2 separate regions of the Homo sapiens genome follow, and region 2 is linked to region 1. The links come from fine-mapping of genetic effects on gene expression. Tissue or cell type: whole blood. Region 1 holds a variant in brackets; the other region holds the start of a gene. All regions are shown on one strand. Distances are between the middles of the regions.

Region 1 (4,246 bases):
CCAGTGTAAGGAAACTTAAGTGTCTATAACTAAAACCCTTATTTCTCTTGGCCTACAAACCAAAATATGTTATATTCAGGACTAAAACTCTGTAAGCCAACCAATTTCTATACAGATTATTTCAGATCTACGCACCCACTTGATTGTTTTGCTTAGTAGGTCTGAACTTTGCACTGAAGCAGAGTTTGAGAATTATCTGAGCATTCTTGTTGACCAAAGTGATTTTTTCTGGTGTGAATGAAGCTTCTATAGCTACATCAGCAATACTTTGTGACCTAAAAGACATAAAGAGTAACAGATGGATGGATGTTATTACTGAGCACACGTATTATATCCTTTATCATAGAGGACCCAGTACCAGCATTACTGAATTTTTCTCTCTACTCTCTATCAAAGCACTTTAGCAGTAGTATATATTTGAAAGCTCTAAGATGGCAGACAGAGATAATTTTTTTTTTAATTTGTGACTGCATCACTAACACAATACATGTTTAACATATTAGTTATTTATTATACTTTAGGTTCTGGGATATGTGTATTTACTCTTGATATGCTACTCTGAAATGATTTTAACTGATTTATTCAGTAAATATATTTTCTTGTTTTTTTAAAGTCTTAAGTATTATTCTTGAGTTTTATTTTTTCCACATAAAAGTTTCATTCTGCAATAAAAATAATGTACTTCATTCTTTAAAAGCACAAGTGAGATTTGTAAATAGTATCATTAAACTCAGAAATAAAAAATAATCAATGAATATTATTTTTCTGTTCTTCAAATATTTGTACATTTAAAGCACATTTTTTGACAGAGACAAATGAATGGAGATTCTTGATTGAATAAACAACTTCTTTCTGATTCTATTCCCTTGCCGGCCCAATATACTTATTTTTGACCTTGAATCACATGACCTTCACACTGTTCTCTCTGAATCTTCAACTCCTGTGGAGGTCAATGAGAGGTCAGCTAAACCTAAATAATGGCTTATTGTTTATGACTAATAATTTTAAAATATACCATTCAGTCACATAGAAGTTACACTTTACTTGTGTGGTCTGAATTTTCAGTATTTTTGAATGCACTCTCATGAGGTTTCCCTTCTGTATGCTGAGATAAGGCTATTTATAGGAAGATAACATTCAGAAATAGCCTGGATACCATTTCCAGAACTTTATGTTTTCTATGTACTGTTTTACTCACCATATGAGGAGAGAACTATATTTCTAATGGTAAGCAAATATATCTATTTTTCCTACTTGGAAAAACACATTTATTCCTTTGTGCAAACTATGATACATCGATTCCCTATAGTCTTATAGAATGCATGTGGCATTTCTATAATACCAGTACAGACATCTGTTCTGCTTTCTTAGCAGGTAATTTTTAGTTAGTTTGTGTCTGGCTCTTCCTGACTCACCAGAGTTGAACCACTTGTCCAAAGGCACCAATAGACACATCGGTGATGGAATCCCCATTTAAATCTCCATAGCCATCCAAGGACCTCCCAAAGTACTGGAGATGGCTCCTAAAGGCTCCATCGGATCCCAAGATTTTCTAAAAGAGCAGGTTTGACACGAAATTATAGTACACAACAGCTGAACCAGAAAATGGCAGCCTCTGAATTTCATTATTATATTTTCTATATAGTAATGTCCCAGATTGTGTTTATTCTCTACAAATTCTAAAGATTCATTTTTTAATCACATCTTATTATCTGATCTCTGCATCACTCTTACAGCCACATTTTCATCGAAGGGACAGCATAAATCTTTAATAAAAAATCATAAACCAGTGAAAAGATCAGTGGACTTGGAGCAAATTGATGCAAGTTCAGGTACAGGGTTAATTTCCTAGTTCTTTTCCTTCCAGTCTTACTCCAAAATTGGCTGCTCAGTGAGGCCTCATTAGTCACCCCTTCAACCACCTGATACTCCTATTGCTGAAATTTTATTTCCTATTTTAGTTTCATTTGCTTTTTTAAAAATTCCTTTATTACTATCTGGAATACTTTATCTTATCTACTTCTTTCTTTTTATTTGTCTCCTCCAATATAATATAAGGCACACAAAGATCAGAATTGTGTCTGTCCTGTTCTTATAGCATCCCCAGACTCTAGAACAGTGCTTGGGCACACAGTAGAGGCT[C/A]ACTTTATATTTGCTGAGTGAAAGAATGAAGTTACAAAATAAGGCGGACGGATTGCATGGTTTACATGACGCTTTCTATGTCTAATATGATAAGACCCACAAATACATACATCACCATAACAGCTCATGGATTACCTGGGAATACTTTGTGCGGATAGTGCCCTGATGACCATTGTAAATGTATACAGCTCCAGAATTCTGATTTTCTAGTGGTGAACCAACAATCACATCATTAAAGCCATCCATGTTGATGTCTGAAAGAGCTGCAATTGCTGAACCAAATCGAGTGTTTTCAATGCCCTCGGGGCCTTCAAGAAATTGGTGCTGACCCAAAATGCCCTTGCAAAGGGGAAACAAAAGGATGATTAAAGCAAACCTTACAACTTGTATAATTAAAATTCAGAGCAGCTGGGTGTGGTGGCTCATGCCTGTAATCCCAAAGACTCCAGAGGCTGAGGCAGAAGGACTACTTGAAGCCAGGTATTTGAGACCTGCTTGAGCAATAGTGAGACCTTGTCTCTATAAAACATTTTTGTAAAAAGTTAGCCAGGAGTGGTGGCACACAGCTGTAGTCCTAGCTCTCAGGAGGCTGAAGTGGGAGGATTGCTTGAGCCTAGGAATTAGAGGCTGCAGTGAGCTATGATCACACCAGTGCACTACAGCCTGGGTGACAGAGCAAGTCCCCATCTATTTAAAAAAGTGAAAGAAATATGATAAAATAAAAAAGAAAATAAAATTCAGAGCAATCGATGACCAAACTAATTTTTTAATATTAAAAATGGATAGAATTTTAAACCTGAACTATTTATGATCAGAATTATAAATAAGAATTTCAGTAAGGTCATAAATATCTGCTCATAAACCAAGGTCAAAGGAGATAATTCTCTTTACTGTAGCTGAACAGCATCCATTTCTTGGTCTCATTTTCCTCTCAATAATACGATCTTCATCTATTTCCAACCTTTTGATTTAAAATTTTTCTGGTGAAAATTACTAATATCTTGAATGAAATTAAAGCAGACACAGAACAAAATAAAACACAATATCTTAATTTAGGCTTTCTGTAAAAATTACCAAATAGTGACATAATTATAGTGGTACAGGAAGTAGAAAATGAGATTGTTAATATCTCCATTATTAAAAACATTAAATAATTCTGTGCAAAGGAAAAGACGTTTCCTTGTAAAACACAGTTTTTTTCTTCAATTTTATGATCAAGTATGGAAATATTTCATGACTTCACAAGAAAGCAATGTTTCTCAACCATGAAACTGGGTCAGTGTTCTTTCTCCTCTAATATAATCTTATACAAATTTTTACTGCGTTTGACACGGTATTAAAAGATCTGTTCATTTTCAACAATTAATGATAATTCAGTATATCTCACAAGTAAGAAATATTTAAAGAAGGGGGGATTTGTCAGTTTTTCAACAAGTAACTAGGTCCAGCCTTTGTTGATACTCAATTACACATTCTTTATATGTATAATTGCTTTAGAATTGTTTTAATTAATTACTTCTGTTAAAAGATTAATTTTTACATAAATATCAATAAATCAGGTGGTACAAAATATCACAATACTTAAACATAGTATTTACTATTTTAACATCAGCTTCTCCTTTTCTTATATACTAAGGAGCATATAATTTTCTATGTCAATCTGTGCCTTTAATTTGGTTTTCTTTTTTTATTTCATGGAGTTCACTACACTTATATACATGGATTTAGAGAGTTCAGTCCACAAATTGGAAAAATTATGCTTTGCCATGTTAATGTATGGTGTTTTTTTGTGGAAGGACTTGAAACTTCAAGAGTTGGATACATGCCTAAATGTTACACTAAGCAATGACACTTCCTGACAAACTAATGTAGGAAGCATCTGAGATCACAAGGAATTTACAAAGTGCTTGGTAAAACTTCTGTTTTTCACTGTCAACTGATAACAAGAAAGCATTGCCCTGTTATTGTTGTCTTTATCGCAAAAAATTACATGTGATACTAGAGAAATACACAAATGTTTGTGTGTGTGCATATTTCAATAAACGATGTGCACTTATAATGGCTTTATTTGCATAAGAGACTATATATTCAAAGACCTCTCATG
Region 2 (4,246 bases), 45 kb before region 1:
ATGCAAATGTTCATAAAGTCATTTTGCTATTACTAAAATAATTTATATACCATTGTGATGATTCACTGATTTAATTAATGAATTCATAAGAAAAGTAAAATCAAAGCCTATGGAATAAGCCTGGAATATTTTGGTATCAGTTTTGCTTGCATATCCACAAATTATAGATGGGGCTGTATTTTGTAAAAAAAAAAAGAACTGTGTCATATCTACAGCATAATGAATAAACGATGTGAACAGAAACTTCACAGAGAAGTATAAGTGCTCAATGAAAATATGAAAAGATTCACCTCATTAGGAATTAGAAAATAAAAAAATGAAAGCAAGGCAATATTATTGACCTATATTTACTTGAATTTATCAACAAAATAACTGGTGAAACTGATAGGATTATAAATCATCAGATTATTGTTTATTTGTAAAAGATAGTTGCTCCTAAAATATTTTCTAAAATAAAGAAGATTATGAAAAATATTAAGAAACCTGAATTGATATTTTGTAACTATATGTTCCCACTTTGGACAGTTTCCATTTTTTTTTAATATTCTGATGTCATTTACATTTTATTTTATAATCATATCCCATAATTGATATCTTAGTTTTACGTTTGAATGGGTTAAAATCTCAATGCCAGTTTTTTTAGTTTTTCATTTTTCCCATATTAATACCTTTATTGCTGAGTTATTTACTTTGATTACTCTTGATTGAGTGGACTTTTTGCCCAAGAAAGATTTTTAAGAAGGGTTCTTGGGTATTGTGTTTTTTGAGTTTTTGCTGATTTAGGAGAATCCTGCCCCACCAGTTTGGCTGTAATATTATGGGATCATGCTTTTGTTCTCAGCCTTTTTTACACACTGCACATTGCCATCAGATGCCACTGAGGAGTCTAAGGCCACTATTGTCATTCCCTTGTTTTTATGCCTGGGTGTGAATATAGTCTTTATCCTTTATGTTTAGCAACTTTACCAGGATACACATTGGTATTCATTGCTCCTTGTCAATTTTTCCTACCAAGGACTCTCCAGCCTCACTTCTCATCACCTCCTTTGCTGGAGGCACACCTGCCTTGCCAACTACTTGCCCTTCTGTGAACTTATTATGCTTCTTCATATCCCTGTGGCTTGTCAGAGGCAAGTGAAATTTCTTCGTGCTCTACTCCCACTCTTGTCATTTACTGCCACCATTCTAGCAGATTTACCTTCTCAGCATCTTCTCACTCCCCAGGTGACACAACCACTTTCCCCTTCCACCCTTGAAATGTAACACAGATCCTTAGTATTACAGGGAATTATCATTCATATTTAAAACTCTCCTACCCAGGACTGTGAGCTCCAAGGAAAGGGACGTGTAACTTACATCCACTTAACGACGCAAGCAATTTAAAGCCAAGAGTTCTTGTTGGCAAGAATTGGGAAAGTTGGACGGACAGTATACAATTACCGAGCAGCCAATAAACAGGAAAAGTCATACAGTTCGAATGTTCTGACCAGGCGGATATTCTGTCTTTAAGAAACACTAATCATATACCTGGGAAAGAAAAAAATCTTGGGCCCCTTCAAACTGGGAATTACTCAGGGCAAATCTGCCTCCTATTCTATCCAAGTCACCTCTTTTGCTGACAAAGAATAGATGCATATTCTGATTGCCTCCTTTAGAAAGACTTATCAGAAACTCAAAAGAATGCTACTGTCTATTACCTACCTGGAAGCCCCCAGTTGGGGGGGGCGGGGCTTGCTTTTAACGGTCTCCGCCTTTCTGGAAGGAACTAATGTACTTTTTACATATTGATTGATGTCTCCTGTCTCCCCAAAATGTATAAAACCAAGCTGTGCCCTGACCACCTTGGGCACATGTCCTCAGGACTTCCTGAGGCTGTGTCACGGGCATGTCCTCAACGTTGGCAAAATAAACTTTCTAAGTTAACTGAGACCTGTCTCAAATTTTCGAGGTTCACATACCGTAGGTAAAAGTGTCAGAAGCCTAAAGGTGAGCCAGTGGAAAAGCCTGAAGACCCCTGCAAGGTTATTAGCTAAGCCTCCATAACGCAGGCGGCAAGTGTCCAGGAGTCTGGCGTCTGCTCGCCTGCACCACGACCTCCCTCCTGGGGAGAAGGACATGCATGGTAAGCCATTTCTCCATTTCCATACTGATTGCTTCCTCTCACCACCACGGCCCATCTGCGAAGCAAAACTAATCCTGGCGTGGAACAGGCCGCCTGAGGGAAACAGCTAGAGCCCGGCGCGGGGCGGAGCTGGTTGTGCGCATGCTCCGTGCAGGCGCAGGCGGGGGCTGAGCGCCGTCGGGTTACGCCTGCGCTCCGGGTGAGCCCGCGCCTGCGCCTTTGCGGCCGTGATTCGGTCCCGCTGTCCTAGGCGGGATGGTGCCGCTGTGCCAGGTAAGGGTGGCGGGTGTGCGTGCGGGCCTGGGTGCGGAGCCCTCCTCGACGTGTCTCTCCCGCCCTTTCCCTCCACATACCCAGCCTTGGTCAGTCGGACCTCCCCACTAGCCCCCAACCTGGCCGGCGTCTTGGGTTCGGGGGCGCCCCCGCCCCCGCCCCCGGGCCCTTCCTGTCTCCGGGCTTTACTGCGACTGCCCCAGCAGAAGTCGGGTCCTCTCCGAGAACTCTTGTCAGCTCACGGCAGCAAGGACGGACTCGTTCTGAAGGCGCCTCCACCTTTTATGACCACCTCTTTCCCAGATTATTCGTTTTGATGAAGCTAAAATTTTAATCTAAAAAGAAATGCACCTCATGGAGAATTCTTGTGAAGAACTGTGCTTCATCTGTGGATTTCTACACCCTTGATCATTTGCAAACCTGTAATTATTTCGTAAAGAGTTGTTTGCACGGAGTGACAGGTGCCTATTTTACTTCGTCGGATCCCTTACATACCAGGCTGCTGGCACAAGTTTGTTCTAGCAAATTCCAGTCTGTCGTGTGTTTCAAACCTACTTGCTTCTGTAAATGTCAGATTTACTATGTTGCATAACTTAATCCTTAGCGTCTGGGGACGATGTTATACAGACCGGAATCTAAGGTCATTTGACAACCGTGAGAAACAGGTTTTTCGCTTATTTATTCATTTATTTTATTTGTGTAACTCATCTCTTGACTCAAACATTTGTTCTTTGCTTACATATTTATAAAAGGTGCTATACTTTTATGTCAATTAAGGCAGGCTTAACATGTTTTCCTAGAAGATAAATACTTAGGATTTTAATGATGGCACACTTAAGTTTGTAAAACTAAAAGGCATCCAGAAATTAGTCTGAATTGTATTTAAAACAACAAGTTTTCAGAATTTGAACTTGTAGGTATACTGAAATTTTTTACGGGTTATTTAATTTTCTTTATAAAATTTGTCTTTGATTAAAGCAATACATTTGGAAAATGAGAAAACTGCTCAACATTGACAGTCAGAAAACGAGTATGAGTTGTTATTAAAAGCATTTTCTTTACTTTCAGGTTGAAGTATTGTATTTTGCAAAAAGTGCTGAAATAACAGGAGTTCGTTCAGAGACCATTTCTGTGCCTCAAGAAATAAAAGCGTTGCAGCTGTGGAAGGAGATAGAAACTCGACATCCTGGGTAGTTAAAAATTTGTAGAATGCATATGAGTAACACTTAGATATTTTCAAAATACATAAATGATAAAAGTAAAAAGGTTAATTTCGATTTCCGTGCTTAATGTCAAAAAGAATCGTTAGTTGTATTTTTTTTGGAACACCTGAAAAACTCTAAATGTGCACCGTATTTTAAGAAAGGTTAAAGATATTTTACCCCAAAACACAGTGAACCGCAGAGGGACATGATTATATTCTCTTTGATAATTTACAAAACACTGCACATGTCACTTCTGCAATTTTATAACATTAAATGAAATTGTTACAAATTCTGTTAAAAATGTGTGCTTTAAACATTTTGTTCTGCCCCTCTCTTTAGAGAGCTCAACATAGAAATTTCTAAGATTGAAAGAAAAATGAGTTACAACAAATCCTAGATGCTGCTGAATTTGAGTTTTTGTAATATTTAATTTTTTTTCTGGTTCTTGAAAAACCTATAATTTTACTTATGTCATTCCCACTTCAAGTTCTTTTTGGAACAAAATATAAAAGTGACTTATTTGAGGGTGATTCAGGAATATTAATGGTGTTACTTAGCTTGTATAGGTGTTTAACCTGGAAGTCCTAGTTCTGTGTAAAAGATACTCCATAATAAGTGTTTAAAAGCAAACCACTTCATGATTTCG

The links. PIP is the estimated chance that this variant, and not a neighbour inherited with it, causes the effect.
Region 2: MOCS2 starts here. The variant in region 1 is fine-mapped to the expression of MOCS2 in whole blood (TOPMed, PIP above 0.99). The same link has a PIP of 0.9 or more in blood mononuclear cells and monocytes.

The regions. Positions count from the first base shown.
Region 1 is chr5:53,063,147-53,067,392 of GRCh38, reverse strand. It overlaps ITGA2 (integrin subunit alpha 2), which reads right to left. Exons shown (of 30, transcript NM_002203.4): 14 at 2,278-2,481; 15 at 1,416-1,552; 16 at 136-275. Among named protein-coding and RNA genes, the nearest start is that of MOCS2, 44 kb to the left of the region's middle. The variant C/A (reference allele first, on the strand shown) is at 2,143.
Region 2 is chr5:53,107,861-53,112,106 of GRCh38, reverse strand. MOCS2 (molybdenum cofactor synthesis 2) reads left to right here and starts at 2,350. Exons shown (of 7, transcript NM_004531.5): 1 at 2,350-2,856; 2 at 3,464-3,585. MOCS2-DT (MOCS2 divergent transcript) reads right to left here and starts at 2,265. Exons shown (of 2, transcript NR_104654.1): 1 at 1,959-2,265. RefSeq lists a silencer at 2,322-2,611.